Linked DNA regions of Homo sapiens. The protein of the gene in region 4 purifies or fractionates together with the protein of the main gene of each other region. This does not show direct contact. Each region holds a gene or a part of one and is shown on either strand. Other genes may lie near its edges. The genes, in order: KDSR, DHCR24, HACD3, CNR2, PLS3, GART and ARF3.

What was found.
Region 1: the proteins of CNR2 (region 4) and KDSR purify together in Homo sapiens (affinity purification with mass spectrometry; one large-scale study listed by BioGRID and IntAct). This does not show direct contact.
Region 2: the proteins of CNR2 (region 4) and DHCR24 purify together in Homo sapiens (affinity purification with mass spectrometry; one large-scale study listed by BioGRID and IntAct). This does not show direct contact.
Region 3: the proteins of CNR2 (region 4) and HACD3 purify together in Homo sapiens (affinity purification with mass spectrometry; one large-scale study listed by BioGRID and IntAct). This does not show direct contact.
Region 5: the proteins of CNR2 (region 4) and PLS3 purify together in Homo sapiens (affinity purification with mass spectrometry; one large-scale study listed by BioGRID and IntAct). This does not show direct contact.
Region 6: the proteins of CNR2 (region 4) and GART purify together in Homo sapiens (affinity purification with mass spectrometry; one large-scale study listed by BioGRID and IntAct). This does not show direct contact.
Region 7: the proteins of CNR2 (region 4) and ARF3 purify together in Homo sapiens (affinity purification with mass spectrometry; one large-scale study listed by BioGRID and IntAct). This does not show direct contact.

What each region holds. Positions count from the first base shown.
Region 1 is NC_000018.10:63,329,207-63,333,809, forward strand, and holds part of KDSR (3-ketodihydrosphingosine reductase), read right to left. Parts: intron 2,696-4,603; coding exon 2,576-2,695; 3' UTR 1-2,575.
Region 2 is NC_000001.11:54,852,696-54,856,195, reverse strand, and holds part of DHCR24 (delta(24)-sterol reductase precursor), read left to right. Parts: intron 1-1,961; coding exon 1,962-2,159; intron 2,160-2,583; coding exon 2,584-2,762; intron 2,763-3,500. UniProt on the Homo sapiens protein: Catalyzes the reduction of the delta-24 double bond of sterol intermediates during cholesterol biosynthesis.
Region 3 is NC_000015.10:65,557,833-65,562,435, reverse strand, and holds part of HACD3 (very-long-chain (3R)-3-hydroxyacyl-CoA dehydratase 3), read right to left. Parts: intron 3,757-4,603; coding exon 3,705-3,756; intron 1-3,704. UniProt on the Homo sapiens protein: Catalyzes the third of the four reactions of the long-chain fatty acids elongation cycle. This endoplasmic reticulum-bound enzymatic process, allows the addition of two carbons to the chain of long- and very long-chain fatty acids/VLCFAs per cycle.
Region 4 is NC_000001.11:23,878,437-23,883,039, forward strand, and holds part of CNR2 (cannabinoid receptor 2), read right to left. Parts: intron 3,917-4,603; exon of another isoform or gene 3,819-3,916; intron 1,169-3,818; exon of another isoform or gene 1,068-1,168; intron 1-1,067. UniProt on the Homo sapiens protein: Heterotrimeric G protein-coupled receptor for endocannabinoid 2-arachidonoylglycerol mediating inhibition of adenylate cyclase. May function in inflammatory response, nociceptive transmission and bone homeostasis.
Region 5 is NC_000023.11:115,563,461-115,568,063, reverse strand, and holds part of PLS3 (plastin-3), read right to left. Parts: intron 1-4,603. UniProt on the Homo sapiens protein: Actin-bundling protein.
Region 6 is NC_000021.9:33,503,642-33,508,244, reverse strand, and holds the end of GART (trifunctional purine biosynthetic protein adenosine-3), read left to right. Parts: intron 1-2,140; coding exon 2,141-2,271; intron 2,272-2,542; coding exon 2,543-2,684; intron 2,685-3,717; coding exon 3,718-3,833; intron 3,834-3,929; coding exon 3,930-4,121; 3' UTR 4,122-4,312; downstream 4,313-4,603. UniProt on the Homo sapiens protein: Trifunctional enzyme that catalyzes three distinct reactions as part of the 'de novo' inosine monophosphate biosynthetic pathway.
Region 7 is NC_000012.12:48,940,081-48,944,683, forward strand, and holds part of ARF3 (ADP-ribosylation factor 3), read right to left. Parts: intron 1,109-4,603; 5' UTR 1,016-1,108; coding exon 868-1,015; intron 28-867; coding exon 1-27.

The DNA.
Region 1 (4,603 bases), on a different chromosome or scaffold from region 4:
TATCCAAAACCCGCTGGGCTGGATGTGTTTCAGAATTCATAATCTTTGGGGTTTTAAAAAGGCAATATGGGCATATTTTGAATATTACAAAACACCTCCACAGCATCTAAGGGAAAACCTATAATCAAATCCATGGATATTTCTTCAGGGAAAATTAAGTCACAATGAAGTAGCATAAATATAAAGTACAATACTCTCACATCAGTTCAAGTCAGATTTTGCTGCCAAATGAATTACGGTATCAAATTTAGAAAAACACAAACCAACTTAGATTTCGAAGTTTCTTTGCTAAGGGACTGTAGCCCTTTAACATCTCTGACAAGGAAATTTCTTCTCTGACATGATGGTCTCTGCAAATCTGCTCTCATATTTCAGTGGAAATTGGGATAGGGACAATTGTCTTCTACCGCAAAACAGGGGCTCTCAACAGGTGCTCTTAAATTTATTCGGGTAGTAGATTACCATCTCACTGGAGGCAACAGGTTCTATGAGGATAATTTGAAAAAATATATTGAAATAACTATTTAATGTTATTAAATCAGACACTTTCTTGGACTAGATTCTAATATAGATCAGCAGTAGAAGGTGCCAACATTCGAGGAACATTTATGAGAAAAGAATAAAACTGAGAAACATCCAGACATTAATGCAATTGTTTTCTGCAAATTATAAAAAGCTATGATTCCATTTTAGCAGCTGCACAACGCAACTCGATATAATCTGCAAACTTTGGCTCTGTAAGACTGAAAGATTTATGAAACCATTCTGGCATCAACCCATCCTTACAAGCTGCAATGAAATCATTCCAAGCAATTTATATATTAAATAATAATTTCTTCTGTATCTATCAGTGTTTAAAATATGCTATTCTCAGATCTTAATAAAAACATGGGTTAAAGCCATAAAACATCTTATTTTTTAAAAAGTTAAGTCATTTAAAGTCAAGAGCTTCAAAAACTCAAGAGCAAAAAAAAGGTATGCTATAATTTTTAGGTCTTCAATTTTTGTATAGAGTTTTTATGTTTTTTAAGTTTTATTTTACAATTTAAGAAAGTTTCCTCTTCAAAAACAGAGGTCTTTTCTCACCGAAGTGATCTGGAATGTGCTACCGTATATGCAAGGAAGACAGGTTACAAGATCAAGGTGAAGGCAGCTCTCCTCAAGTCAGAGGAGTGTGAACAATGAGCAGGATGCAACGGGGAATGTTGGCTAAAACTCATCAGAGGCACTTGCTGTCAAAATCCACTAATGAACACAGATCCTATAACCTGGAAACAACATTCAGGGGCCAAGAGGGTTTCCAGGGCTACAGAGTTAGATGAGTGGGCTTCCTTAGCATGTGGTATAAAAATAATGTCTGCAGGTTCAGTGGGAGAGTCACATAAAGAACAGGTGATCATTTTATTTCAAAAGCAACTCTCTTCAAAATCAGCCTTGTCTTTTTTTCTTAATGAGCAAACTTTATACCATCATCAGCCTTTCCTAAAAGCTACATATATGCTCCGAGAAAAAGTCACACTTTTTAATTTTTTCATTTGCTTTAATTAATTCATGAGTTAAGTTAAAAAGTCAAGTCGAAAATTTTAGCTGGTCTTTTTTTTCCTTTTTTTTTTTTTTTACAAAAATATTACAGCAGTATAAGCAAAATTGGAAAGGAAGAGATGGGAAAAACAAGTAGATGCTAAAATGGGATAGGTGAACTTCAGGTCATCATGGTTATTGAAGGAACTGTAAATTCTTAAGCTTCTAGATTTTACCGCTCTTCAGAAAACATTTAAGGAGGCTGCCTTTCCCCATGAATGAGAAATGAAACGTTCCCTAAGCATTTGAGTCTAAAGACAAGAAAGCATTGCTTTTCCTACTGGAAAATATCTCTTTACTTCCCATTGCACTGCCCTCTCCCGTCCCCCTCGTAGCTTTATGGGATCAAAGAGAGAGAGAAGCCATGAGTTTCCACCAGCAGCAGAGTGAGTCCTGAGCACAACACAGGGCTGTCAGTGACATTCAGACTCACTGGCAATGGGTCCAACTCATCTTGAATAAAATACACAAAGAAAGAAAGAGAGAGAGAGAGAGAGACAGAGAGACAGAGAGACAGAGAGACAGAGAGACAGAGAGACAGAGAGAGAGAGAGAGAGAACCCGAGAAACCGAAAATTGTTTTTTTATGGAAGGTTTAAACAAAGTCCTCAAGATTTCTTTATGTGCCAGAAAGTACATTTCTGGACTTAATCTCTAGGGGGGCAAAAAAGAATAAATAGAAACAAATTTAATGATCATTCTGGAATCCTGTTCTTTACTTTGTTCACACGCTATTAATTCTCATACCTTCACCTCTCTACCACAAAGCCTAGAAAATCAAATGGTCTCCTATTCCATATTTGCATAGTATTAATAATACTGTCAGGAGGTGAACTTCTAGCCCCTTGCTTGCAGCCACATTCCTGAAGAGCACTGGTCCAATCTGACGTATTCGAAAACAATACATAAGTGTCTATAGGCCAAAAATTGGGTCCCATTTAGCAGCAAGCTGTTCAAATTATTTGGAAACAGTCTTCTTCCAAGGGGTAAGAAGATTAGGCAGTTTTGTCTGCATTTTCAGATTTTTCTCTCTGCATCATGCAGCGACGAACTATGCTGTCAAAACTTCCAAGGTAAAACAAAGCAATAGTGCGGAAAAGGCCCATGGTGACCACCTGCAAGATAAAGAGAGAGCTTTTAGTGCATCCAACGGTACAAGACTATTTCAAGGTACCTAGGTCTCTAACAAACAGTTTCTAAGACAAATCTTCTAGTCTGCTCTAAGGATGAATATAATGAAAACTCTGTAAATGTCAGTAAGCTGTGAGAACAGAATGTGTGTGCTCTGCACCGCTGGACAGCCCAGATACATAACAAAATATTTGTCCAATTAATAAATTCAAACCATAAGCAGAATAAAATATATATTGCTTGCAGTCTTAGGGTTATAATAGCTTTAAAAAGACCCACTGCAGCATCTCAAATAGCCAAACTACAATCAAGGCTTTTTTGGTTTGCAATTTATGTTCTGAGCATGAAAGCGAGACCCTATACTAGGTGCTGTGAACACTGTGGTGAGAGACACAGTCCCTGCCCTCAATGAGCTTATTCTCAGGCTGGAAAGACAAGTAAAATTGAAACTACTGCCTCAGGGTTGAGACCCGTGATTACTGATATCCTGTTGCTCAGGATGGAGTGCAGTGGCATGAACGCGGCTCACTATAGCTTTGACCTCCCAAACTCAAAGGATTCTCCTGCCTCATCCTCCCAAGCAGCTGGGACCATAGGCATGAGTCCCCGTGCATAAGAGAATGGAAAAATCAGGCCGGGCGCGGTGGCTCACGCCTGTAATCCCAGCACTTTGGGAGGCCGAGGCGGGTGGATCACGAGGTCAGGAGATTGAGACCATCCTGGCTAACACGGTGAAACCCCATCTCTACTAAAAATACAAAAAAATTATCCGCGTGTGGCGGTGTGCGCCTGTAGTCCAAGCTGCTGGGGAGGCTGAGGCAGGAGAATGGTGTGAACCCAGGAGGCAGAGCGTGCAGTGAGCTGAGATCGTGCCACTGCACTTCAGCCTGGGTGACAGAGCAAGACTCCGTCTCAAAAAAAAAAAAAAAAAAAAAAGAGAATAGAAAAATCCCTTTGTTTTTTTCCCTACACCCTCAGAGCACTGAAGCCAGTCCTTGGATCTTCCGGAAAAAACAATATTTAAGGTGAGACCTGAAGGATTAGAAGTTGGCAGGACACAGAGAAGATTCCAAAAAGAAGAAGATGGGTAAAGAAAGAAAGAAAAAAAAGAGCCTGGAAAGGTACGTGGGGTAGGAGATCAGGTGGTTTATGGCATGCGATGGAAATTTTTTTAATTTTTAAATCCTTTTTAGAGACAGGGTCTTGCTCTGTCACCCAGGCTGGAGTGCAGGAGTATGATCACAGCTCACTGTAGCTTCAGACTTCTGGACTCAAGCAGAAGTCTCCCAGTTGCTAGGAATACAGGTACACACCACCACGCCTGGCTTTCTTTTCTTTTACATTTTTTTGTAGAGACAGGGTCTCACTATGTTGCCCAGGCTGATCTCAAACTCCTGAGCTCAAGCGATCCTCCTGACTTGGCCTCCCAAAGTGCTGAGATTATAGGCATGAGCCACCATACTCAGGTGCAATGGAATTTTTAAAGCTTTATCCTGATGGTATCAAGGAGTCATTGAATGTTTTCATGCAATGTATAGTTGCAGTTTAGAAACAACTGGTGTGGAAAATGTGAGGGTACACTCAAACGCATCCAGGGGGCCTGAGCAGGGGGTTGCAGACCATAGTGGTTGCAGGGACTGTGCTCCTCCCTCAGGAGCAGCTGCCACCTGTGCTTGCTGATGACTGCCAGGTAAGAATGCAGACTCTGTGCAGCTAAACCTTCTGATTTTCCAAGAAAAGTCTGAAATCTGGACCTTTTATATAAAACCTAATTTTAAAACTATTTTAAAATCTTAAACACACACACTCACACCAGATGGACCCAACAAAACTGCTTTACAGGCCCATGGGAATCGTTTACAACCTCTGGCTCAAAAAGTGTGTAACTCAAG
Region 2 (3,500 bases), about 31 Mb from region 4:
AGGAACACACAACCAGAGGGTGGGCCGAATTTGTGGACCCCTGCAGCACACATTAGACACCCACAACCGAAGGCAGTAGTGCCCTCTGTATTGATACAGGATACAGTGATGAGCCAGTGGTGCTAAGATGCCACCATTTATGAGGTTTTTTTGCTTTCTGTTTTTTCAAAGCTCCTCTGCTTCTCCGTATCAGATGTCCCCCAAAGGGTAGGCAAATCATTCTTACCAATGCTTGCCATTAGGGAGGGGGAGGAGAGTTGAGGGTGGGTGGGGAGCCAGGTCAGGTCATTGCTGGGAGGGAAACAGGGTCAGGAATGCGCAGGGAGGCTTAACTTTTGTACTATGGGGATTTCTGCTGTGGGCATGTGTAGGTCTTCCAAAGGTAACCAAGGAAACAATAAAAGCCAGGCTATTTATTGAGATCCTGTTGCATGCCAGACATTGGCAAAGGCGCAGGATCTAACAGAAGAAAACAGGCAGGTCCCTGACTTCATGGGAGTGGTCCGGCAGCTCCAGAGGAGTGAGGGAAAGGGTCACTCAGCCTTCAGTGCTTACACACATGGCTGCTTTGGGGAGTCACCGTGCCCCCTAGTCTGATGTGGACCCTTTCATGAGCTGCCCCAGCCTCTGTTTGTCCCCACTCTTCCCACACTCATCCAGTGGCCTGTGTCTTCCACACCTGCGGTTGTGGGTGTCTTAAGGACAGAGACCATGTCTCAGTTATCTTGGTTCCCCAGCACCCAGCATAGAACCTGGTTCCTGACCTCGGAGGCCCCTTGGAACTGTTTTTTTTTTTTTTTTGGAGACGGAGTCTCACTCTGTCGCCCACACTGGAGTGCAGTGGCACAATCTCGGCTCACTGCAAGCTCCGCCTCCTGGGTTCACGCCATTCTCCTGCCTCAGCCTCCTGAGTAGCTGGGACTACAGGCGCCCGCCACCATGCCCGGCTAATTTTTTGTATTTTTAGTAGAAACGGGGTTTCACCGTGTTAGCCAGGATAGTCTCGATCTCCTGACCTCATGATCCATCTGCCTCGGCCTCCCAAAGTGCTGGGATTACAGGCATGAGCCACCGTGCCTGGCCAGAACTGTTTAATGAATGGAGGAGCAGCCTTGGCTTCAAGGGCTCCCAGAGCTGTGAGAATCGGGCATCAGTGGACACTGGGGACCCTCAGGAACATGGTAGGACTCAAGCAGGGAGGAGGATTGTGACCCAGGGGCCAAAGTCTTCTCTGTTGGAGGTGGGCAGAGCTGGAGGGAAGAGGGGGCCATCGTCAGGAGGCAGCAGTGCTGAGTGAGGAAGCTCCCGCCTCGTGGCAGTCTGAGGCGTGGAAGAGAACAGCTTCTGCGCAGGAGGGTTTCCAGGGAGACCGAATTGGGGGAGCCAGGCGGGTGGTCAGGCTGTGAGCAAGGGATGCTGCAAACCAGTGGGCTCCTTGTCGAACCTGAGCCAGACTGCACCCACCCCATGAGCGCTGTCTCTGGCTGTGTGCCCCTAGGGAGACTGCTTAAATTCTCTAAGAATCACTATGCTCATTCAACAGCATTCGTTTCTCAAACATTTATGGAATGCCAGCTCTATTCCAGCCAGATCTCAACAGCTAGATCAGGAATGATAGCTAGCTCATTATTGCACTCCAGGCATGGGGTTGAGTGCCTTCCACTTGGTATTAATATCTCATTATCCTCACAAGGCCCATTTTACAGATAAGGAAACTGAGCTCAAAGAAGTTAAGTAACTAGCCCGGGGTCATCACTACTGGCGAATGCCAGAGCTGAGAAGCAAACCTAGATTGGACTGGTAAAGTCCTAGGTCCCATCACACCCCCTCCAAAGAGGGGAATTGGACTCAGGCGTGCTTCTGTCAAGCACAGAATGGGACCTGGCCCCTGGCCCCTTGCACTTGGAGACATTCAACCCTTGTTGGTTTTTTTCTCTCCAACCCTAATCTTTGTTTTCCAGGACATTATCCCCTTTGGCAACAACCCCATCTTCCGCTACCTCTTTGGCTGGATGGTGCCTCCCAAGATCTCCCTCCTGAAGCTGACCCAGGGTGAGACCCTGCGCAAGCTGTACGAGCAGCACCACGTGGTGCAGGACATGCTGGTGCCCATGAAGTGCCTGCAGCAGGCCCTGCACACCTTCCAAAACGACATCCACGTGAGTGGGGCAGGGCAGGGAGGGCGCACCAGGTGCATTCCCTTGGAATCCATGGTCTCCTCCCCTGAACCGTGTGACCGACCTTGGGCACACTGCCCTCTGGGTGTTTTCCCAACTTTAAGATGAGGTCCTTGTCCCTATGTCTGCTGAGGCCTCAACCCACTCAGTGATGGCCCCCCTGGGAGAGGAGTCATAGGGTCTGGCATCGAGCACTCCCATGACCTGCTCCGATTGTGTCCTCCAAGGTGGTGGAGTCAGGGTGTTCTCAGCCAGGGCTGGGGGGCGGGGCAGTGAAGCTGAGAGCACCTGAGGGGGTCTTGAGAATGCTGCAAAGCCTTCATTTGGGTGGGTATGAGCGGGCCAGCCATGAGCCTGTCACCTGTTGGAGAAAAAGCACCAATACCCACCTCCCTGGTCTACCCAGGTCTACCCCATCTGGCTGTGTCCGTTCATCCTGCCCAGCCAGCCAGGCCTAGTGCACCCCAAAGGAAATGAGGCAGAGCTCTACATCGACATTGGAGCATATGGGGAGCCGCGTGTGAAACACTTTGAAGCCAGGTCCTGCATGAGGCAGCTGGAGAAGTTTGTCCGCAGCGTGCATGGGTGAGTGGCCCAGAGTATAGTATGTTGCCTCTAGCTGACAGCCCCAGGGTACTGCTCCAGGGGAATGAGGCCAGCTCTATGGAGAACCAGGAGCCCCAAGCCTATCAACTGGTTCCTTAGGGCCCCTGCAGCTGTGGCAGCCTCTGGGTCAGGAGGTAAGCTGTGAAAGATGGGCAGGGGGTGGGCTTGCAGGACTACTTGCCCTCTTCTCCCTGCACCCCCTCCTCCAGTGAACATGTCACACCCCCCCAGCAGCCCCAGCCAGAAACCTGGGAGTCACCCCACTCCTCCCCACGGAACAGATGATGGGTGTGGGCTTAGCTGGGTCCAGGGGCAACTGCTCCAGATGGAAAGGCCAAAGCTAAGGAGAGAGGGATTCCTGTCTATGAAAACCACGGAGAGGCCCAGGACAGAGGATTGCTCAGAAAACAGCCTGGATAAACTATTGAGTGGAACATGGACAAAGCCAGGAAAAAACAATGCCATATGATTCCTTTCATATAAAATTCCCAAAAACACACATGAATCCATACTGATAGCGCATCAGTAGTTGCCTGGGGATGGCAGAGGGCAACGGATAACTAAGGGGCATGGGGAAAGTTTGGGGCTGATGGTTATAGCCACGATCTGGACTGCAGTGATTGGAGTCCTTGGTTGCATGCATGTGTCAAGCTTATCCAATTGTGTACTTTAAATTATGTCTAGTTTATTGAAAGTCAATAACAGATTAAAGGAAAA
Region 3 (4,603 bases), on a different chromosome or scaffold from region 4:
TGGCTTATAACTCCCACAGCCCTTGTTACAGTTTTTTGTTATAATGTTGGGACACTTTAGGCCTCAGACAACAGAATCTCCCTCTATGACCTTCCCTGCCTTCCTTTCAGCTGCCCAAGGCACGACTCTAATCTGATTGTGGGTCCTAAGACCCTCATTCCAGAGAGGGTCTTGCCTCATACTCTGGAGGAGGGAACACTGCACAGAGAGGCTGAGAAGAATCTGGACAGACAGGCCTTGCTGGGTTTAGGTCAGACCCTTTTTGTCCAATCACATTTCAACACAGTTCAACACGCTTCAGTCATGCCTATCCGATGAAGTCTCCATAAAAGGCCCAAGGGGACAGGGTTTAGTCAGCTTCCAGACAGCTGAACACACGGAGGTTCCTGGAGGGTGGCACACCTGGGGAGGGCATGGAAGCTCCGCGCCACTTCCTCCATACTTCCTCCTAATCTCTTCATCTGTATCCTTCATAATATCCCTTATAATAAATGAACAAATGTGTTTCCCTGAGTTCTGTGGAGCCACGCTAGCAAATCAATCAAACCACAGGAGCGGGTTGTGGGAACCGTAATTTACAGCCTATTGGTCACAAGTTCTGGAGGTTCAGACTCGGGACAGGCTGGGGGCAGGGGTGTGTCTTGGGGACTGAGCCCTCCATCTGTGGGAACCTGATGCTATCTCTAGGTAAACAGTGTCAGAATTGAACCAGAGGGCACCCAGCTGGTGTCTGCTGCAGAACTCATTGCTTGCTTGGTATGTGGGGGAAAAAACCCACCCACTTGGTCACAGAAGTCTTCTGTGTTGATTGTTGTTGAGTAAGAAAATAGGAAAAAGCAGTTGAGTGTTGTAGTGTTGTATTTTTTCCATAACACCTGGCAAAAAAATGAGTGGCCATCTGAAGAGGCATTACAAAAAGGAAATAAAGATTTCCTCAGCTCCGGCTCAATTTTTTTTTTCTTTTTTTTTTGAGACAGAGTCTTGCTCTGTCACCCAGGCTGGAGTGCAGTGGCACAATCTCGGCTCACTGCACGCTCCACCTCCCAGGTTCAAGCAATTCTCCTGCCTCAGCCTCCCGAGTAGCTGAGATTACAGGCTTCCGCCACCACGCCCGGCTAATTTTTGTATTTTAGCAGAGACAGGGTTTCATCATGTTGGCCAGGGTGGTCTTAAACTCCTAACCTCAGGTGATCTGCCCACCTTGGCCTCCCAAAGTGCTGGGATTACAGGCATGAGCCACCGTGCCTGGCCCTCCAGTCATCTTAATATAATCCATAGTTTCTTCTTTTCTGGAATTTCTTTAAGGTCACTGAGGTCAAACTAGCTCAAAGAGACAGATACAGTAAATGAAAAAAACAACCCTGATATTTGGTTATATATTCACTCAACCAAGCATTAACTGAATACCTACAATGTGCAAGGTACTGTGAGAAGAACTACTGGGATACAAAGGTAGTTCAAGGCTGCCCTCAGAGCTTACAATCTAAAAACTGTAATACCAGGTGGGGAGTAACAAGTAATGTCTTGTGAAACTTTCAAGGTGAAAAAACGACATTAGGCTGGAGAAGTAGGCATCAAGCTAGTCTACATGGATAAAGCTGGTATCTAATCCGGGCTTTTTTTTTTTTTTTTTTGAGATAGGGTCTCACTCTGTTCCCAGGTTAGAATGCAGTGGTGGGACCATAGCTCTCTGCAGCCCTGACCTCCTGGAGTCAACCCATCCTCCCACCTCACCGCCCAAGTAGTTAGTTCTACAGGTCTGTGCCACCACACCTTGCTAATTTTATATTCCATTATGTTTTGTAGAAACACAGTCTTGCTACGTTGCCCAGTCTGATCTCGAACTCCTGGCCTAAAAGATCCTCCCGCCTCAGTCTCCCAAAGTGCTGGGATTAGAGGCATGAGCCATCATACTTGGCCTGATCTGGGCTTTGAAAGATGGGCAGACTGAGGACATAACCAAAGCAGGACAATTTCAAACCAACATGCAGGAAAATAAGGGACATTAATTTTATCTGCAGCCTAAGATTCATGAAGATACAGCCAATTACAGAGTAAAGGAAGAAACAAGAGGCTTTGACAGAGTCATTGTTGAGTCAAAGGAGTAGGGTAAAGAAAAGGACAGTTCTTAAGAGGAGATCTATGGTGTTCAGATTTTGCTGCTACATATTTATTCCTAGGCTACAGATATTCTGCAAAGACATCTGGTTGGTCCTCAAATAATCACATTTAATAATGTGGTCAATCAAAAGCAGCCTAAGCCAGGCACAGTGGCATATGCCTGTAATCCCAGCTACTTGGGAGGCTGAGGTAGAAGGATCACTTGAGCCCAGTATCTTAAGATCAGCCTGGACAGCATAGCAAGACCCCATCTCAAAAAAAAAAAAACAACACAGCCTTATCCTAAGACTCCAAAAAATGTCAGACTTCTAGCAACATTTAGCTAATTAAAAGTTATTTCTTCAAAACTACAAAAATCTATTACACTTCCCCACCATAAAGAACTTCCTTGTTCAGAAAACTTTATGAATTTAGGTAAAACAGTTAAAGCTTTACCTAACACCCAAAAAATCCATATATTAGAATTTTTATCTATTTTTGAAGTTTATCCCTTTAAGACACCAAAACATTAATTTAAATCTCAAAGTGGCTTTTTTATGTTGTTATTCTTTGCCTCCACTGAACCTCTCCCCTCCTCGGCTTTCCTGAAAGAATATTCCCCTAAGGTAGTCGCTATTCAAATATTTTTTAAAATTCCTTCTCAAAAGAAACCTTATTCGGAATGCCAACACATAACACTCAAAAGAGAGCTGCTCTGACTGAGGTAGACCTGTTTGTGTGATCTACTCCTCCAAAGCATCTCTGGGAACCCCCTGGGGCACCATGGAACACAGTTTGAAAACTACTGCTCCAAAACTTTCCCCTCCCTTATTTATGGCATGCTAGATAAGTACCACTAAAATTTGAAAAATTTCAACTTAGAACAAGTAAGAAGGACTTATTTCATTCTGCTTTTCAGAGGTAGTTTTACATACACCTGCAGTTCCCTCACTAAGAATGTAAGCCCTTTTGAGTATAGGCGCTACGATGGATCCCTCTGGCTCTTAGTCAAGGGCCCAGCACAATGCTTGCCACACAGCATGACTTTAACAGATAGCTGCTGAATTTAATCTAACTACATCACCCAGAAGATAATACACTTACAGAGCTTCCTGCTTAAAGTGGTTAGACGGAAACAGAAATTGATTTGTTAAAGGTTAATGAATAGCAGGACTACACAGAATACTCTCCATCTTTCAGGCTGACAACCACACTTATGTATCATACAGCCTTTGAGATTTCAGCTGGGAGAAAAACACCAGGCTGAAGGAGTGTAGCCTTGGATCCATGCAATCATTTCCACAAGTCTCTGCAGGATTTGGTTGCCATCTGCCATGAGGCCAGTCCAGGAGTTCTTTCATTCTGCTACACTAGCCTTGGTGTACTCATGAAATAACAACCAAAACACAAAGGACACATTAAAGGTAAGGATTCTGACGTGGGTAGTGCAGACCTTAAGCACTGGACCTAAAAGCTTTTTCATAAACTCACCCACACAGCTCACCGGGATGAAATCATTAGCTCTCCTGCCACATCACAATTATCCATACTTCCAACACTAGCACAAGTTAACTGGTAACTACCATGGCAGCAGCACAACTTACTTTCAGGAGAGCCTTCGCTTTCCAGTCGGAGTTTATTTAGGCGCTCTTCTTCCTAGAATTTAGACAAAAGTTTTCCAAGAACACAAGTTAGAATTCCCAGATGCTTGCAAAAGTCCATATGCTGGCTGAGTAATCTGACTCCCTCAAAGCCAACTCCTCCAGTTGGGGTCAGTGCATCATTGGGAGAATATTCTAGGTCATAGGGCCAAACGCCTGACTCCTGCTTACTAAGCAGCATTAGCATCACAGGTGCCCATCCATTGTTCACAAAATTAACCCAGTGAGCTGGCTTCCAAACTGACAAGTGACCTTGGAATCTTAAAGCTGGAAAGGACATCCAGAAGATCTGTCGCAGTCAGAGAAATAAAACAGAAGTTTAAGGCAGGAGGTAGACTGCTATTTTATTTTTCAAGACTTCTAGAATTTTAGTATAATTTTTCCAGAAGCTAAGATCATGTTTCCAACATCACTATGAACTCACGTTTAGCTTAACAGAGATACAGATGGATCCATACAGAAATATTTACAGGTGTATGTGTATGCATGGGTTACTATCCAAACATATATTTTCTTGTTCTGTCAGTGAAGAGAACTTAAAGGCAATGGCAACCTGGTAGCAATGAGCATACCCGGCACCCAGATCTTGGTTTCCAATGCTATTCCACAATAAGAACAGAGATGCTTGAAGAAATGGCTGTTCCAGGGCTGGAGCAGGAAACATACATGCAAGATAAGCCTGGAGCAGCTTATACTGCCAGAAAGTAAGGAAGTGCTCAAAAAAAAAAAAAAAAACAGTCCCATAATGATGGCGCTTTCTCAAAAAGATACAAAAGCCAAATGAAAGATGGGCAGGATGAGGACATAACCAAAGGCCAGTTAGTGCCAAAGCTGGAAGAATT
Region 4 (4,603 bases):
AAGCAGAATTTTTTTTTTTTTGAGACAGAGTTCCCAGGTTCAAGTGATTCTCCAGCTTCAGCCTCCTGACATAGCTGAGACTACAGGTGTGCACCACCATGCCCAGCTAATTTTTGTATTTTTAGTAGAAAAGGGGTTTTCCATGTTGGCCAGGCTGGGCTTGAACTCCTGGCCTCAGGTGATATGCCCACCTCGGCCTCCCAAAGTGCTGGGATTATAGGCGTGAGCCACCACACCCAGCCCCAAGTAGAATTTTTAAAAACACATTCCATGTTCATGTATATCATATAGCATACATATCAGAATACCAAAGACAAAGAAAAATATAAGGCAGTAAGAATGAAAAGCCAAATTACCTGTAAGAGAACCATAATTAATTTTAAGAGCAGATTTCTGATCAGCAACAATAGAAGCCAAAAAATAAAGAAAAAACTGTCAGTCTAGAATTTTATACCCAGCTAAACTATCATTCAAGAATGAGGTCTAAAAAATTCAAAGAAAATTGTTCACTAACAGACTTTCACTGAAGGAACATCTAAAGAATGTGCATTTTAGAAGGAAATTCAACCCAAAGGGAAGAAAAGAACGGCAAGAAAGAATAGTGAGCAAGTAAGTTGACAAATATGAGTAAAGAAAAGCAAATGGCTTTATAAAACAACAATGATAATAGTGAGTAATTTATGCCCATCTTTACTAAAAACACAAAAATTAGCCAGGCGTGGTGGTGTGCACCTGTAGTCCCAGCTACTCAGGAGACTGAGGCAGGAGAATTGCTTGAACCTGGGAGGCAGAGGTTGCAGTGAGCCGAGATCATGCCACTGCACTCCAGCCTGGGTGACAGAGTGAGACTCTGTTTCAAAAAACAAAACAAAACAAACAAACAAAACCAAAGTGGAGACTGGGCACAGTGGCTCATGCCTGAAATCCTGGCACTTTGGGAGTCCAAGGCAGGAGGATTGCTTGAGCCCAGGAGTTCAAGACCAGCCTAAGCAACATGGTGAAACCCATCTCTACAAGACATAAAAATTTAGCCAGGCGTGGTGACATATGCCTGTATTCCCATTTACCTGGGAGGCTGAGGTCAAAGGATTACTTCAGCCCAGGTGGTCCAGTGTGCAGTGATCTATGATTGTGCCACCACACTCCAGTGTGGGTGACAGAATGAGACCTTGTTTCAAACAAAAACAAAAACAAAGTAGAAATAAAATTGTGAATGACAAAAATGCAAGACAAGAAAGAGATGAATAGAGTTAAAGCTTTATCTAGGAAGTGGGTAAAGACATTGATTAATTTTAGGCTTAAAAAAAAAACCAGGCATCATCTCTTATCTGGTTTATTGCAATAGCTTCCTAACTGGGCCCCCTGCTTTTAATCAGGCCCATTTCTAATCTAGTTTCAACATAGCAGTCAGGGTGATCCTTTAAAAATATAGGATCTTGTCATTTCTCTGTCCCAAACCCTGCATAGCTCCCTAGTCCACTATGTAAAAGCCAAAGTCCTTAGTGTTATGGTCCCTTCTACCATGATTCCCTTGGTGACCCAGCTTTAGCCACATTGGCTTCTTAATCAGTCTTCTCTTCAGCCACAGGTCCTTTGCACTGGCTGTTCCCTTTTCCTGGATCACCTTTCCCTCAACATTTACTTGGCTTGCTCTCACCTTGTTTAAGTCTTTGCCCAGATCTTACTTTTTCAATGACACCTACCCTGACTACCCCATGTAATACCCTAACTCATCCCAACTTCCAACTCTTTTTTTTTTGAGACGGAGTCTCACTCTGTCACCTAGGCTGGAGTGCAGTGGCACAATCTCGGCTCACTGCAACCTCCGCCTCCCAGGTTGAAGCCTTTCTCTTGCCTCAGCCTCCCGAGTAGCTGGGACTACAGGCGCATACTACCATGCCCGGCTAAGTTTTCATATTTTTAGTAGAGACGGGGTTTCACCGTGTTAGTCAGGCTGGTCTTGATCTGACCTCGTGATCTGCCCGCCTTAGCCTCCCAAAGTGCTGGGATTACAGGCATGAGCCACTGCACCTAGCCCAACCTCCAGCTCTTTTGCTTTTCTTTACACTGACCTCGTCTTTATTTTTTCCATACCACTATCACCTTCTAATATATAAAATGTATTATTTTTAGTTTTTATTTTTTTGAGATGGAGTTTCACTCTTGTCACCCAGGCTGGAGTGCAATGGCGCGATCTTGGCTCATTGCAACCTCCGCCTCCAGGGTTCAAGTGATTCTCCTGCTTCAGCTTCCTGAGTAGCTGGGATTACAGGTGCCTGCCACCAGGCATGGCTTTTTTTAATATATATATTTTTAGTAGAGATGGCGTTTCACCATGTTGGCCAGGCTGGTCTCAAACTCCTGACCTCACGTAAAGTGCTGGGATCACAGATGTGAGCCACCACACCCAGCCTATAGTTTATATATGTAATTTAAATATAAATTAACATATTACATATAATTTAAATATAATTATAAATATAAATTAATATAAAATGATCTGTTGTATAAAATTGTATTCTGACCACATAAAATTTATTTAGAAATTAATAATTAAGGCTGGGCGTGGTGGCTTACACCTGTAATCCCAGCACTTTGGGAGACCAAGGCGGGCAGATCACCTGAGGTCAAGAGTTAGAGACCAGCCTGGCCAACATGGTGAAACTCCATCTCTACTAAAAATACAAAAATCAGCTGGGCATGGTGGCAGGCACCTGTAATCCCAGCTACTCGGGAGGCTGAGGCAGGAGAATCGCTTGAACCCAGGAGGCGGAGTTTGCAGTGAGCCAAAATCACACCATTGCACTCCAGCCTGGGTGACAGAGTGAGACTCCGTCTCAAAAAATATATGTAATAATAATAATTTTAAAAAATTACTGGTTGGGCATGGTGGCTCATGCCTATAATCCCAACACTTTGAGAGGCCGAGGCGGGCAGATCACATGAGGCCAGGAGTTTGAGACCAGCCTGTCTCTAATAAACCCCATCTCTACTAAAAATACAAAAATTAACCAGGCCTGGTGGTGCACACCTGTAATCCCAGCTACTGAGGTGGTTGAGGCAGGAGAATCGTTTGAACCTAGGAGGCGGAGGCTGCAATGAGCATCACTACACTCCAGCCTGGGCAACAGAGTGAAACCCTGTCTCAAAAAAAGAAAAAAAAAATTGCTAGGCCGGGCATGGTGGCTCACACCTGTAATCCCAGCCCTTTGGAGGCCGAGGCGGGCGGATCACCTGAGGTAGGGAGTTCGAGATCAGCCTGACCAACGTGAAGAAACCTCGTCTCTACTAAAAATACAAAAAATTAGCTGGGCATGGTGGTGCCTGCCTGTGATTCCAGCTAGTCGGGAGGCTGAGGCAGGAGAATCGCTTGAACTTGGGAAGGCGGAGGTTTCGGTGAGCCAAGATCGTGCCATTGCACTCCAGCCTGGGCAACGAGAGCGAAACTTTGTCTTTAAAAAAAAAAATTACTAACAAAGTTCATAGGTATGGATCTTTTTCTTGAGATGGAGTCTCACTGTTGTGCCCAGGCTGGAGTGCAGTGGAGCAGTCTTGGCTCACTGCAACCTCCACCTCCCAGGTTCAAGCGATTCTCCTGCCTCAGCCTCCCAAGTAGCTGGGATTACAGGTGCCTGCCACCACGACCAGCTAATTTTTTGTATTTTTAGTAGAGATGGGGTTTCACCATACTGGCCAGGCTGGTCTCGAACTCTTGACCTCAGGTTATCTGCCCACCTTGGCCTTCCAAAGTGCTGGGATTATAGGCATGAGCTACCGTGCCTGGCCTCAGGTATGGATCTTTAAAAACACACTTCGGGATCCCTTCGTAGTTCATAAGCGTGATGACTGGTTTTCACGCTCACGTGTGAGATGTTCCTCAAACCTATGATGACATTGTCACGTTACCAGTCTGATGTGTGAAAAAAGAAAAAAAGACACACTTTTGAACAATTCCTGGGTCAAAAATTCATAAAGGCGATTAGAAGATACTTGGCATTGAATGACTACGAAATTGTGAGACATTAAAATGTGTGAGATTCATCTGAGTCGTATGCAAAGGGAAATTTACAGCTCTAAATGCTGATACTATCAGGTGCGGTGGCTTACACCTGTAATCCCAGCACTTTGGGAGGCCAAGGCGGGTGGATCACCTGAGGTCAGGAGTTTCAGACTAGCCTAGCCAACATGGTGAAACCCCGCCTCTACTAAAAATACAAAAAAAAAAAAAAAAAAAATTAGCCCGCATGATGGCTGGTGCCTATAATCCCAGCTACTTGGGAGGCAGAGGCAGGAGAATCGCTTGAACCTGGGAGGCGGAGGTTTCAGTGAACCAAGATTGTGCCACTGCACTCCAGCCTGGACAACAGAGCGAGACTCTGTTCTCAATAAATAAATTAATAATAAACGCTCATACTACAAGATAAAAAAGCCTCATGAGCTCATCATGCAACTCATGAAATTAGAAGAAGGGCCATGGCATACATTCAAAGAAAGCAGAAGACAGAAATAATAAGAGCAGAAATTAATGACATGGCAAAACTATAGGGAAGAGAAAGAACTGACAAAGTCAAAGCTGGCTGTTTGAAAAGATTATAAAATAGAT
Region 5 (4,603 bases), on a different chromosome or scaffold from region 4:
AGCTTGAAAATTACATTCATCTATGAATGAAAGCGTTATTTTCAGTGTCAACAGCAGAATGTCAATCTGAGTGCAACACGATGTAATTAGAGCTTATAATGTGGAACACAATAATATGAATATTCAAAACTATTATACGGCCCTAACAAATTTTATTTTACAGAAAGTAAAAACTTATATTATATATCACGTAAAACTTTATATAATATACATATGCACACATAAGTGTATATATACTCGTGTGTGTATGAATATCACAACTCAAGGGAATCAGACTTGTATTTTCAATGAACTGGACAGAGTATGAATGGGCGACAGAGTGAGAACCTGACTCAAAAAAAAAAAAAAAAAAAAGAAGAAGAAAAGAAAAGAAAATCCAAGTTAATAGCTTTGAAGGTGTTTATTTTTCAACTTAACTTCCCACATTTTCTGTTTTTTTTTGTTTGTTTGTTTGTTTTTCTGTTTTTCTTTTGAGATGGGGTCTCACTCGGTAGCCCAGGCTTGGAGTGCAATGGCGCAATCTCGGCTCACTGTAACCTCCGCCTCCCAGGCTCAAGCAATCCTCCCACCTCAGCCTCTTGGGTAGCTGGGACTACAAGCCCGTGCCACCGTGCTTGGCTAAGTTTTTGTATTTTAGTAGAGACGGGGTTTCACCATGTTGGCTAGGCTGGTCTCCTGGCCTGAAGTGATCCACCCACCTCGGCCTCCCAAAGTGTTGGGATGACAGATGTGAGCCACCGTGCCAGGCCATTTTTTGTGTTATTCATGGCATGCTACTTAAATGTATAGATTATCTCTTCCACTATGCAGTTTCCCAGACCTGCGTGTTGTCCTCCTTTAGACTGCAATTATGAGGAGGAAAAACTTGATTTTTTATGAGGTTTTTTACACGAAACCTCCCATTATGGGCAATCACAAAACTAAAAATGAGGTATGGTAAGCCAATGGACTCTGTAACAATTACCACTGAAGACCAAAATTCTACTCAGTAGTTAGTTAAAAAGGGGAAAAACACCACCCAATTAATGGCTTTAACGGGCTACCTTGCACAATATTTGAGGTAAGAAATAGAAGAAAGTATCACATGGGCTGGGCGCGGTGGCTCATGCCTGTAATCCCAGCACTCTGGGAGGCCAAGGCGGGCGGATCACAAGGTCAGGAATTCTAGACCAGCCTGACCAACATGGTGAAACCCCATTTCTACTAAAAATACAAAAATTAGCCAGGCGTGGTGGTACGCGCCTGTAATCCCAGCTACTCAGGAGGCTGAGGCACGAGAATCACTTGAACCCGGAGGCAGAGGTTGCAGTGGGCTGAGATCACGCCATTGCATTCCAGCCTGGGCGACAGAGCGAGACTCCATCTCAAAACAAAACAAAACAAAACGGGCCGGGCGCGGTGGCTCACGCCTGTAATCCCAGCACTTTGGGAGGCCGAGGCGGGCGGATCACGAGGTCAGGAGATCGAGACCACGGTGAAACCCCGTCTCTACTAAAAATACAAAAAAACTAGCTGGGCACAGTGGCGGGCGCCTGTAGTCCCAGCTACTCGGGAGGCTGAGGCAGGAGAATGGCCTGAACCCGGGAGGAGGAGCTTGCAGTGAGCCGAGATCACGGCCGCTGCACCACTCCAGCCTGGGCGACAAAGCAAGACTCCGTCTTTAAAACAAAACAAAACAGAACAAAACAAAAGAAGAAGAAGAAAGTATCACATGTAGGTTTTTATTCTATTGTTATCAACCTAGTCTCTTATTTTTCATTATAATATGTCTGGCTTTATTTTTCCTTTGCTTGTAAAAATTGGATGGGTGCAGAACTTTTACAGACAAAGAAAAATGTGGCAAGACTTACGTGATGAGAACCCTGCCATTTCTGTAAACTCTTGTTAAAGCTTTAGTGTTTCTATGATACACTGCTGCAGTACTTTGAATTTATATAGCACCTGTCTGCTTAAAAGCCAAGGCTTCACGTTTCTCACTTATCCTTTTACCATGCCTGTGAAATATGTAGATTGGAATCACATGGCTTAAAAATAAAGTGAAACCCAGATATGACCACAGAAAATTTCAATGAGTTACTTAAGATCATCTATCTGTCCAGACTGCAAAGGACTAAAAGACCCTAAATTCTATGCTCAATGCTTTTCCAATAAACAACACTACCTCCTTATTATCAAATACGTTTCTAAACTTTTAAGAAAATGTAAGGTTTCTCATATTATAAAATCAGTAGGCTTAATGCACCAAAAATCCCTGTCAAGGAATTAAATAAATGGCACCTCTTTATTTTAAAGAACTAACATTAGTCATGGAATAACCCACTGGTGATCACTTTCCTGAATAGTCATCAATTTGCCAACAAAGTATTTAGCTTGGATCAATGCAATTGCATCAAAGTTTGAAAAGTCAACTGATAAGTGAAATAAGCCAGATTATGAATATTTGAAAAAATAAAACCCAGCAAACCAAAAAGCTTGAGCAATCCTCTCTTTTTATAAACAAAAGCATGAATGGTGTCTGGCACATGTATGTACTCAATTAGTTATTAATATAATAATTTTAAATGACTTTCCGAAGGTCAAATTATGAGTCAATGGCAGAGCACTATCTAGAATCTAATTCCTCTGAGGGCAAGTTCAATGATTTACTTAAGATAATCTATCTGTCCAGACTGCAAAGGACTAAAAGACCCATGCTAAAATAATTAGTATTTTCATTTTTGTATACTAACAATACTTCTTCATCCCTAAAACAGTTTATACTCACTAATATTTATCTTCCAAGTGTCAAGACTAAGGCAAAATTTGGTATTATTAAATTTATCGTGAATCTTCTGAAATTGTCTCACCTCCGTAACTAAAATAAATTGGCCCAAGTATGATCAGATCTTCTAAGACTGACATTTCACGATTAGACTGTTTCCATAACTTTAACCAAAGCGCTCTCATAACTAAAATCAGCTAGTCATGACCACTGGTATATAAAAATCTTCCAACATTGTAATGTATCCAAAAAGCTTTGAAACCTCCAACACACTGAATATACATTATATGGTATATCACTGTCTAAAATAATACAGACTCAAAACATGACCCAGCTGACTTCTTCTAAATGAGTTGTATTATTTTCACAGATCAAAAATTTTGCCTTCTGGATCACTCTTCACCAAAAGAAAAATTGCCATATGACCAAAGACAACATGATTCTAAAAACAGATACCCCATTGTTGTCATGTATTGAGAGATATTCATTTTCAAATTTTATTTTATACCAGCTACTTTCATAATCTGTACCAAACATCAAAAAAGAAACAGTTCAGCTTATACATTCCACATAGATTATGCTAGATCAAACACAACAGCAAACTCATGAATTTATCATATGTGCTAAGAACACTGTCAGTACATTTCATGAAAATCCAAGTAGAAATAATGCCTAAAACAGAATATGGGATAATGGCAAATGGACTTTCTTCTTGTACCCTCTCAGTGTCACCAAAAAGAACCACTTTGGTGCTCAAGCACCATGGCCAAGCTGCCCTTTTATTTTCAGTAACAGAATTCTGTTCTCCTGGGAGAAAAATCTCATTGGGTTTCTGATAGTGCCCTAGATACTGACATTCTGCCAGTATAAACAGTCACAGTCAAAGTCTAATGTGCGTGTAACCACTTGTGGAAGAGGCTTAATCTCACCCAAATTATTACTCACTAGTTATAATTAATCCTTCTACCCAAAATGCCATAAGCCTAGTCATTTTTATCAATTGAATCTAAATGGTTACATCAGACTAGAGACTTTGGACTTCAATGTTGATCGTCTGTATTAAGTCAAGGCAAAGTGTTATTTATTTATTAATAGCTCCCCACCTCAGGTAAAGGGGTTGCTATCTGCTAGATCTAACAGTAAAAATCAAGAATTTGACTCCCAGCCCCCTAATTTCAATAAAAATTTGGGCTCATTAGATCATACCACCAAAAAAAGTCAGCAATATTGGGGGTGGTGTTCAATGAGTAGGCATCCCAAGACAATGAAAAGCTGTGGACTAGAGCCTAGCGATGATTCTGTTTAGACATGATTTCACAATACTTAAAAAAGAACTTATCCCCCTACCACTGTAACCTAGTTGAGTGGTAATAACTTCCTTTTTTTGAGGTTAAACATTTATTATTTCGATCTAAAATTATATTATCACCTCACTTCCACTAGAGGGGTCTATCTACCAGTGTAGTTAACTCTAGTAACTCAGGTGCACCTTAAATCCATTTCCAGCTCATCTGTGCCACAAGGCTAGCCTTGGGGTCAGAACAATGTGCTTTAAGGTTGTTCTAGTTTTCAGGCTCAGAAACGGATGAACAGCAAGAAACTGGAGTGCTCCGGTCATTCAGAGGCTGCTGCAGGAGACAAAGGGTTTTTGGCAAAAGAATACAAAGTCAGAATCTCTTAAATATCTTCTGCCCTAGTTGTTTTCAAGACTGAATATGCATCAACCAGGTCCGTTTTTTCTTTTTTTTTCAGATAAGCAAAGCTTTTAAACTCCTGACCTCAGAGGCTCCTCTGCCTCTCTTCTATACTCTGTAATATATAATCTGAATAGCCAAATTGCCA
Region 6 (4,603 bases), on a different chromosome or scaffold from region 4:
ATCAGTCAGTTTTAACATAATGTTATACTGTTTCTACTACAATGCTAGATCACAAGATACAGAATTTGTGGGAGCAATTACATATCCTAGGAGCAATTACATATCCTAAACCACGTCGTTTGCAGCAATATGGATGGAACTGGAGGCTATCCAGGAATATCTGTGCTTTTCACAATCTATTAATCCATTATCCCAAGAGGAAGGGAGTTTTTTTAATTTTTAATTTGTATGGGTACATGGTAGGTATATATATTTATAGGGTACATGAGATCTTTTGATACAGCCATACAACCTGTAATAATCACATCCCTGTAAATGGGGTATTCATCACCTCAAGCATTTATTCTTTGTGTTACAAACAATCCAGTTATTTTATTTCAGTTTTTTTTTGTTTTGTTTTTGTTTTTGTTTTTGAGATAGAGTCTCACTCTGTCGCCCAGGCTGGAGTGCAGTGGCGCAGACTCGGCTCACTGCAAACTCCGCCTCCCAGTTTCAAGTGATTCTTCTGTCTCAGCCTCCTGAGTAGCTGGGATTACAGGCACCTGCCACTATGCCTGGCTAATTTTTTGTATTTTTAGTAGAGATGGGGTTTCATCATGTTGGCCAGGCTGGTCAGGCTGGTCTTGAACTCTTGACCTCAGTATGATCCGCCTGCCTTGGCCTCCCAAAGTGCTGGGATTATAGGTGTGAGCCACCACATCCAGCCTCTTCCAGTTATTTTAAAATGTGTAATAAATTATTGTTGACTATAGTCACCCTGTTATGCTATCAAACACTAGATTTTGTTCATTCTAACTATATTTTTGTACCCATTAGCATCCCCTCTCCCCGTCTCTCCCACTACCCTTCCTAGCCTCTGGTAACCATCATTGCACTATCATCATGAGTTCAACTGTTTTAATTTTTAGCTCCCACAAATAAGTGAGAACATGTGAGGTTTGTCTTTCTGTGCCTGACTTATTTCACTTAACTTAATGACCTCCCGTTCCATCCATGTTGTTGCAAATGACAGGATCTCATCTTTTTTATGGCTGAATAGTACTCCATTGTGTGATGTACCACATTTTCTTTATCCATTTGTCTGCTGATAAACATTTAGGTTGCTTCCAAATCTTGGCTAGGGAGAATAAACATGAAACTGCAGGTATCTCTTTGATACACTGATTTTCTTTCTTTTGGGTATATACCTAGCAATGGGATTGCTGGATGATATGGTAGCTCTTTTTTTTAATTTTTGAGGACCCTTCAAACTGTTCTCCATAATAATTGTACTAATTTACCTTCCCAATAGTGTGTGACGGTTCCCTTTTCTCCACATCTTCGCCAGCGTGTTATTGCCTGTGTTTTGGATAAAAGCCATTTTAACCGGGGCGAGACAATATGTCATAGTTTTGATTTGCATTTCTCTGATGATAATGATGTTGAGCACCTTTTTATATACCTGTTTGCAATTTGTGTGTTTTCTTTTAAGAAATGTCTATTCAGATCTTTTGCCCATTTTTAATCAGAGTATTAGATTTTTCCCTAATGAATTGTTTAAGCTCCTTATATATTCTGGTTATTAATCCCTTGTCAGATGGGTAGTTTGCACATATTTTCTACCATTCTGTGGGTTGTCTCCTTACTTTGTTGATTGTTTCCATTGCTATACAGAAGCTTTTTCCATATTTACTTTAGTTGCCTGTGCCAAGAGAAAGGGAATTTAGAAGCCTCACATATCACCAGTCTTTTCCAAGACATTTATTCAGAAAATTTGACTGTCCCCTATTCAAAATGGCACATCTCTTTTTTTAAAAAGTGTGAGGTTGGGCGCGGTGGCTCATGCCTGTAATCCCAAATTTGGGAGGCCGAGGTGGGCGGATCACCTGATGTCAGGAGTTCCAGACGAGCCTGGCCAACGTGGTGAAACCCCATCTCTACTAAAAATACAAAAATTAGCCAGGTGTGGTGGTGGGCTCCTGTAATCCCAGCTACTCAGGAGGCTGAGGCAGGATAATTGCTTGAACCCGGGAGGTGGAGGTTGCAGTGAACCCAGATCGTGGCACTGCACTCCTAGCCTGGGCGACAGAGTGAGACTCCCTCTCAAAAAAAAAAAAAGAAGTAGTAGTATGAGCTCACTGCTGTTTTTCTCCCTTCTCAGGATCGAACCTGCAAGCACTTATAGACAGTACTCGGGAACCAAATAGCTCTGCACAAATTGATATTGTTATCTCCAACAAAGCCGCAGTAGCTGGGTTAGATAAAGCGGAAAGAGCTGGTATTCCCACTAGAGTAAGTTACTTGGGAAAATATCTTTGCTGTGGGCCATATTTAAGCTCGTAATCTGCCCTCACAGGACCCTGGTCTATGGGCACTTGTTCTTGGGACTTCGCCATTTTGGGTGGGTGCTGGGCTTGCCTTCTTCATCCTGTCCCTTTCTTAATAATCTCTCTATCAGGTATATCTTTACAAGGAAGTGAAGTATGGTCTGTGTAAAGGTTGAGTTTTTAATTATTTTTGGTAATTCATTGAAAAGGGTTGTGCTTATCTTTTTCTATTACAGGTAATTAATCATAAACTGTATAAAAATCGTGTAGAATTTGACAGTGCAATTGACCTAGTCCTTGAAGAGTTCTCCATAGACATAGTCTGTCTTGCAGGATTCATGAGAATTCTTTCTGGCCCCTTTGTCCAAAAGTGGAATGGTAAGCAAAAATTATTTGACATCACATTGGGAAATCAATTGAAAATGGTCTCCAGAACAGATAACTTGCCAAACAATCCCAGTAGTGAACACCCATCCCAGAAATCCAACTCCTGTTTGACTGTGATATTTTATTAATACTTTAACACAGGTCACAGTTTAATTTCCTTTGTTTTACACTAAAGAATGACCCAATGATGATTTATTAACCTGCTCTCTATCCATTTACTTTGGCTTGCTGTAATTAATCACTTTTTCTAATGTAGCTTAGTTTTGTTTCACATTACTGCAAAGATAATATTTCATCTTTTGAATAAATATTCAGAAGACCTTCCTTTATTTGTTTGGAAGCAAAAGAGAGTGATTCCGTATATCCCAAAATGAAGAGTCCATCCTCTCTTAGGAAGCATAGACCATTGCCAGGAGTTGGCAAGGAGGAGGTTATTGCCAGAAAACACATACTATCTATGTTACTGCCTTCTTCCCAAAAGCCTTGACTGCATCCTGTTTGTGTATGTGTGCACACAGTTGGTCAATAAATGCATTTTCCCTCCAAAGAGTTTATGTATTCTTAGGTGAATGTAGTTAGAGCACTTGTGGTGTGATATAAAATAGACAATGCCTTTGGTGACATGAGCCACACAGAACTAATCTAGCATCTGTCTGGTGGACAGGTCACTTTGTGGTTAGAAGTCAAGCACATAGATGCTATGTAAGAACCTCTTGCTTATTTTTAATAGTACGTGCCAGCAACAAGCTGGTATTCAGCTTGAACTCCCCACCTTCCTGTCACCATGAATGTCTGTTCAGAGCACCCCAGCATGCCTTTAACTGTGCAAGGCGGGTACTTGCTGCTTCCAGGGCCTTCTTGGATGAGAACTTACTTTTACCTCATTTCTGTGTTTGGCAAAGAAAACATCCATCCCAGAAATCCAACTCCTGTTTGACTTCGGATCTAGATAGGAAAACGTATTCCTTTAACAGAATACCCAGGATTTTTAAATTCTGACCACTATGCTTTTTTTAATTTTTAGGAAAAATGCTCAATATCCACCCATCCTTGCTCCCTTCTTTTAAGGGTTCAAATGCCCATGAGCAAGCCCTGGAAACCGGAGTCACAGTTACTGGGTGCACTGTACACTTTGTAGCTGTGAGTATGTCTTTTTCTACCAACATAATATTAGTAGTCAGATGTAAATGACACTGGCTAGAAGGTAATGTTCAAAACTTTTGCTTACTTTTCCAGGAAGATGTGGATGCTGGACAGATTATTTTGCAAGAAGCTGTTCCCGTGAAGAGGGGTGATACTGTCGCAACTCTTTCTGAAAGAGTAAAATTAGCAGAACATAAAATATTTCCTGCAGCCCTTCAGCTGGTGGCCAGTGGAACTGTACAGCTTGGAGAAAATGGCAAGATCTGTTGGGTTAAAGAGGAATGAAGCCTTTTAATTCAGAAATGGGGCCAGTTTAGAAAGAATTATTTGCTGTTTGCATGGTGGTTTTTTATCATGGACTTGGCCCAAAAGAAAAACTGCTAAAAGACAAAAAAGACCTCACCCTTACTTCATCTATTTTTTTAATAAATAGAGACTCACTAAAAACAAGACTAGTTAGTGCAGCATATCTGAGACATACAGTTTTCTTGGTCTTTTTTATGCTCTTTTTCTAACCGTCACCCCCTCTTTTTTTTTTTGGTATTGCCTGACAACATGATGAATCACCTCCATGTTTATAAGTTTTATGTTTTCAGCTGGGCACAGTGGCTCACGCCTGTAATCCCAGCACTTTGGGAGGCCGAGGCAGGCGGATCATGAGGTCAGGAGATCGAGACTATCCTGGCTAACACAGTGAAATCCCATCTCTACTAAAAATACAAAAAATAGTTAGCTGGGTGTGGTGGTACGCACCTGTAATCCCAGCT
Region 7 (4,603 bases), on a different chromosome or scaffold from region 4:
TATACTCCACTGTCTCCACATTGAACCCTTTGGAAAAAAAACAGGCAATGGCCACTTGGCCTCAAACACTAGCCCCGCAAACACCACCACAATGAGTTTGGTTCTGCTTTCCCCCAGTGGTGGCCATAACACCAACAATGGAACAAAAGCTAAGGCTTCCTCAGACCTGATAATCGTTAAGCTAGCAGCCTGAAGGCCAAAATGAAAACCTAAGAGAAGTCAAAGAGGATGAGGAAGTTGGTTGAGAGGTTCACAGTTGCCTGGGTAACGTGGGCCAACTTTCCTGACTTTTCCACTCAGTCTTTGGTGCTCCCTCCTACAAAATGACTCAGCCCTGCTCTGGTACTTTGGCTACCAGAGTCGGCCTCAGCTAAGATGTGGGGCCTGAGAGGCAGAGTGAAGAAAGGGAAGTAAGCTGGCATCCTGGAGCCCCAAAGGCAGAGCCAGCTGACAATGCTGACTGGAGCCCCCATCTACATAGCAAATGTAGGGAGACCTCCCTTCAGCAAACTGTAACCAAGATTGGCCACCAAAGATCTAAACCCAAGTAATTCCAAGCCTTTGGCAGGAACATCAAAGCCTTTTACCTGCTTTCCAAACAACACAGAGAAGAAACCAACTCCGTGCCTGAGGGCAGCTGTTGAGTGCCAGGCCATGGAAGTTCCCGCATCAGGGAGAGCCAGGTTAGGTGGGCAAACAGCAGCCTCAGCACCTGGTAGTAAGCTAAACAACACCACCCTCTTTTCTGAACCCCACAAATTGTATGGACTTGCCTGGGGAGAAGAGGCCAGGTTGGGGAACCAGGAATAGGTCCCTGCCCTGCCTCAGCTGCCGGCGTGAAAGCCCACATCCAAGCTGTGCTCTTACCAATGGTAGGGATGGTGGTGACGATCTCCCCGAGTTTCAGCTTGTATAGGATGGTGGTCTTTCCTGCGGCATCCAGGCCCACCATCAGGATGCGCATCTCCTTCTTCCCAATCAGGCTCTTGAGAAGGTTTCCAAAGATATTGCCCATGATCACAGCAGCTGCTTTCTGGGGACAGTGGGGCCCAAGTAGGGGCAGTGGCAGTCTGGTTTTGGCCTGGTCCCTGGTATGGAAGACTTGATCCTAGACAAAGGAAATGTAAAATCATACCATCATTTGCTTGTCAGGACTTCCAAGTAAATAGAATTTCCCAAGGTCATGGCTAGAGTTCATTCATGACAAACGGAGAGCCTGAGGGGACTATAAATACCAAGGCCCACTCAGATACATACTGAGTCTTTGGGAACAGAGACAAAGCAGTAAACACTAAGGATCCCTGCTCTGCCAGTAATCTAACCATGTGACTCTGGGCAAGTTACTTCACTTTTCCATATCTGCACCTGTAAATGGAAGGGGGATTGAACTAGATGATTTCTGAAGTCCCTTCAGTTCTGACATTCTACCCTATACCCAAAGGCATTGTAAGATCATTAATGCCCCTCCCTCCCCTAACCTTACTTACCCTGAGACTTCTGGCAAGGGTGGGAGAGGAGGGAGCGGAATAAGGAGTGGCTCTCTGTGACTCCTGACAAGGTTCAGGCTTGCCAGTTTCCCAAGGTTTATGCTTTCTCCTTTAATCAAGAGACTCTGCCTCTTCCCTTCCTATATTTTTGCAACTCCATCTTTCTTCCACACCAAAATAAAGGAGGAATAAGAAAGCCGCACTCTTAAAAGAAGCCGATCCTTTACACTCTGTGGAATGCCAGCTGCTAATGTTGTGCCCTGTTCAAACAACAGTGCACTGGCAGTAGAGAGGTGGGGTATGGCGGGGCTACCCCTTTACTCCTCAGCTAGGTGCATCCTTGGCTTACTGTGGCCCATCCAAGGAGGGGGCTGTCCCACATGGTCGCTGCAATGAGGCAGTCATCTCATTGGTTCTCTGCTTCTTCCCTAAGCCTTTCGGCCTATTCTCCATATAGCATCTAGGGTGGTTTTAAAACCAAACTCAGGTCATATGAGTCCTTTGTTCAAAACCCACTCGTGGCTTCATAGCTCCTTTTCAGTAAAACCCAAGGCCCAAACCATGGCTTACAAGGTCCTACAAGACCTACACTCCCCTACTTCTCTCATGAGATCTACTACTCTCTCTTTGCTTACTCCACTCCAATTCCCCAACACTTTCCTTTCCTGCCTCAAAGCTTTTTTTTTTTTTTTTTAAAGAGGCGAGGTCTTACCGTGTTGCCCAGGCTGGTCCCAAACTCCTGGGTTCAAGCAATCCTCCTGCCTTAGCCTCCCAGGGCACTGGGATTACAAGCATGAGCCACCATGCCTGGCCCAAAGCTTTCATATTTGCTATCACCTCTGCCTGGAATGCTTCTCTTCCAGATAACCATCATAGATTACTCCTTCACCTCCTTCAGTTAGTTGTCTGTTTCAATGTCACCTACCAAAGAGGCCTCCCACAACCACATGTATAACACACACACACAGACACACACCACTCCCTACCCCATTTATCCCACTTTACTTTTCTTCACAACATTTATCACCATCTGATACATTATATATTTATTTCTTGCTGATTGTTTTATTCTGCCTAAGATATCAGCTCCTTATGTGTTTTGTTCACTGCTCTGTCTCCAGTACCAAGAATAGTGCCTAGCACACAGTACTTCAAAAACTGAACTAATCCCCAGGGTCTCTACTGACTTTACTGAAAGCTCACTCAGACTGGATGCTATGCCTGGCATATGGTAGGCACATAACAAATACCTGCTGAGGCCGAGCGCAGTGGCTCACGCCTGTAATCCCAGCACTTTGGGAGGCCCAGGCGGGTGGATCACCTGAGGTCAGGAGTTTGAGAACAGCCTAGCCAACATGGTAAAACCCCATCTCTACTAAAAATACAAAAACTAGCCGGGCATGGTGGCACACTCCTGTAGTCCCAGCTACTCGGAACGTTGAGGCAGGAGAATCACTTGAACCTGGAAGGTGGAGGTTGCAGTGAGCCGAGATCACGCCACTGCGCTCCAGCCTGGGTGACAGGGCGAGAATCCATCTCAAAATAATAATAATAATAGTAATAACAACAACAAATACCTGCTGAAAGGATGAACAGGACCAAAAGAATCATTATGAAGGTATAAAATGTCTATCTGCTCACCCCAGCCATTGCCCCAACAGACAGAATCAGATTCATTCATTCATTCCCTTTCTTCTTCCCTCTCTTCTCTATGGCACAGGATAGCCACAGAAATGCATCTTTGAAACAATAATAAAATGAGGATTCAGAATCACCCATACAAACCAGTTCTCTGTGCCTGCAGGAGGCATGTGTCAGCGGGCAGCTTATTCAGCAATCACCATATGCCAGCTGCTGGCATTCTCTAGAGTCTGGGAACCAGAGACACACACACACCCCAAACTCAGCAGCCAAAGGGACAGGTCAAGACAAAGTGCGCCCAAACCCAAGAATGTGAAAGGTGGACGGGGAGGAATCCTATTTACAAGCTAACGCATGGGGGTTTGGTGGGAGTTTGGTTGTTTTTACAAAAACTTCTGACATTTCCCCCACCACCCTTCTCAGTTTGCAGCAAATTCCAGACTAGTGCAACTGAGCCAGATCAACAGTCCCTGAAGACCAAAGTACTAGTTTGTCCGAAAAAACAGAAACAATGAGTGCTTATGAAGTGTTTCATCTTCAAAAGGCCTCCCCAGACAGCCACTAATGAGCCAGGCGTGGCACTCTCAGTAGGTTCCCCAGATGAGCCCTACCCCTGACCTAGAGGGTTCACACACCAGGAAGAAGGGCTAGCTCAACCTTAGGGTTCAACTTCAGTCAAGCCACCCGCTAGCCTTCCTCCCTACTCTTCCTGCCTCAACCCACCCAGGTGGACAGACTCCTGAGGACCCCTGAGCGACCTACCCAGCTAAGAACAGCTCTCACCAACCTTGGCAATTTGTAGTAGTGACTTTTGGTCATACTACTAACACCTCATGAAATTTAAACCTTTCCCAAGTCTTCCTAGTCTTCTAGCCTTTATTCTGCCTCTTGCTCAGGCAGCCTTTCCTTCAGCTCCAGATGACACTTTGCTTTAAAGGTTTGGTATCAGGCTTTGGCCCAGATTCTGAATTAAATTTATGCCACACATTTATCTTGCTGTCCTTTATGACTGAAACTATTGCTGATTAAATGCTTACCAACTGTGAGTATAGTGGTGGCTGAAAAAGATATAACTAGCCAATATGCCTTGCCCCAGAACACAGGTACACTGTCCTTTGATTTGCTTCTTTGCTCGGCTGTCATGCTGAAGTCCTGGTTCAAAAGCTGATCCCAGTGTTACACCTATTATTTCCTGGCATGCCACATCAAGGCCTTACTTTGAATGACCTTAACCACTCAATGTGGCACTTACTACCTTGTCGAGTTTTTCTTCTTTTATAAGTCTGTGTATTTACTGCTTCCCACGTTAAGCTGTGTATTCCCTATGTGCAAAGACTATGTCTACTTATTTTGAATCTGTCCTCCCTCTAGTGCCAAGTAGATTGTGGGAGTTCAATTAAGCACATTGGCTGATTTAAGCCTCATCTGAGGATGTCCTTATATTATTTCTTCTGTCCAGTAGGATTTGGTATCTC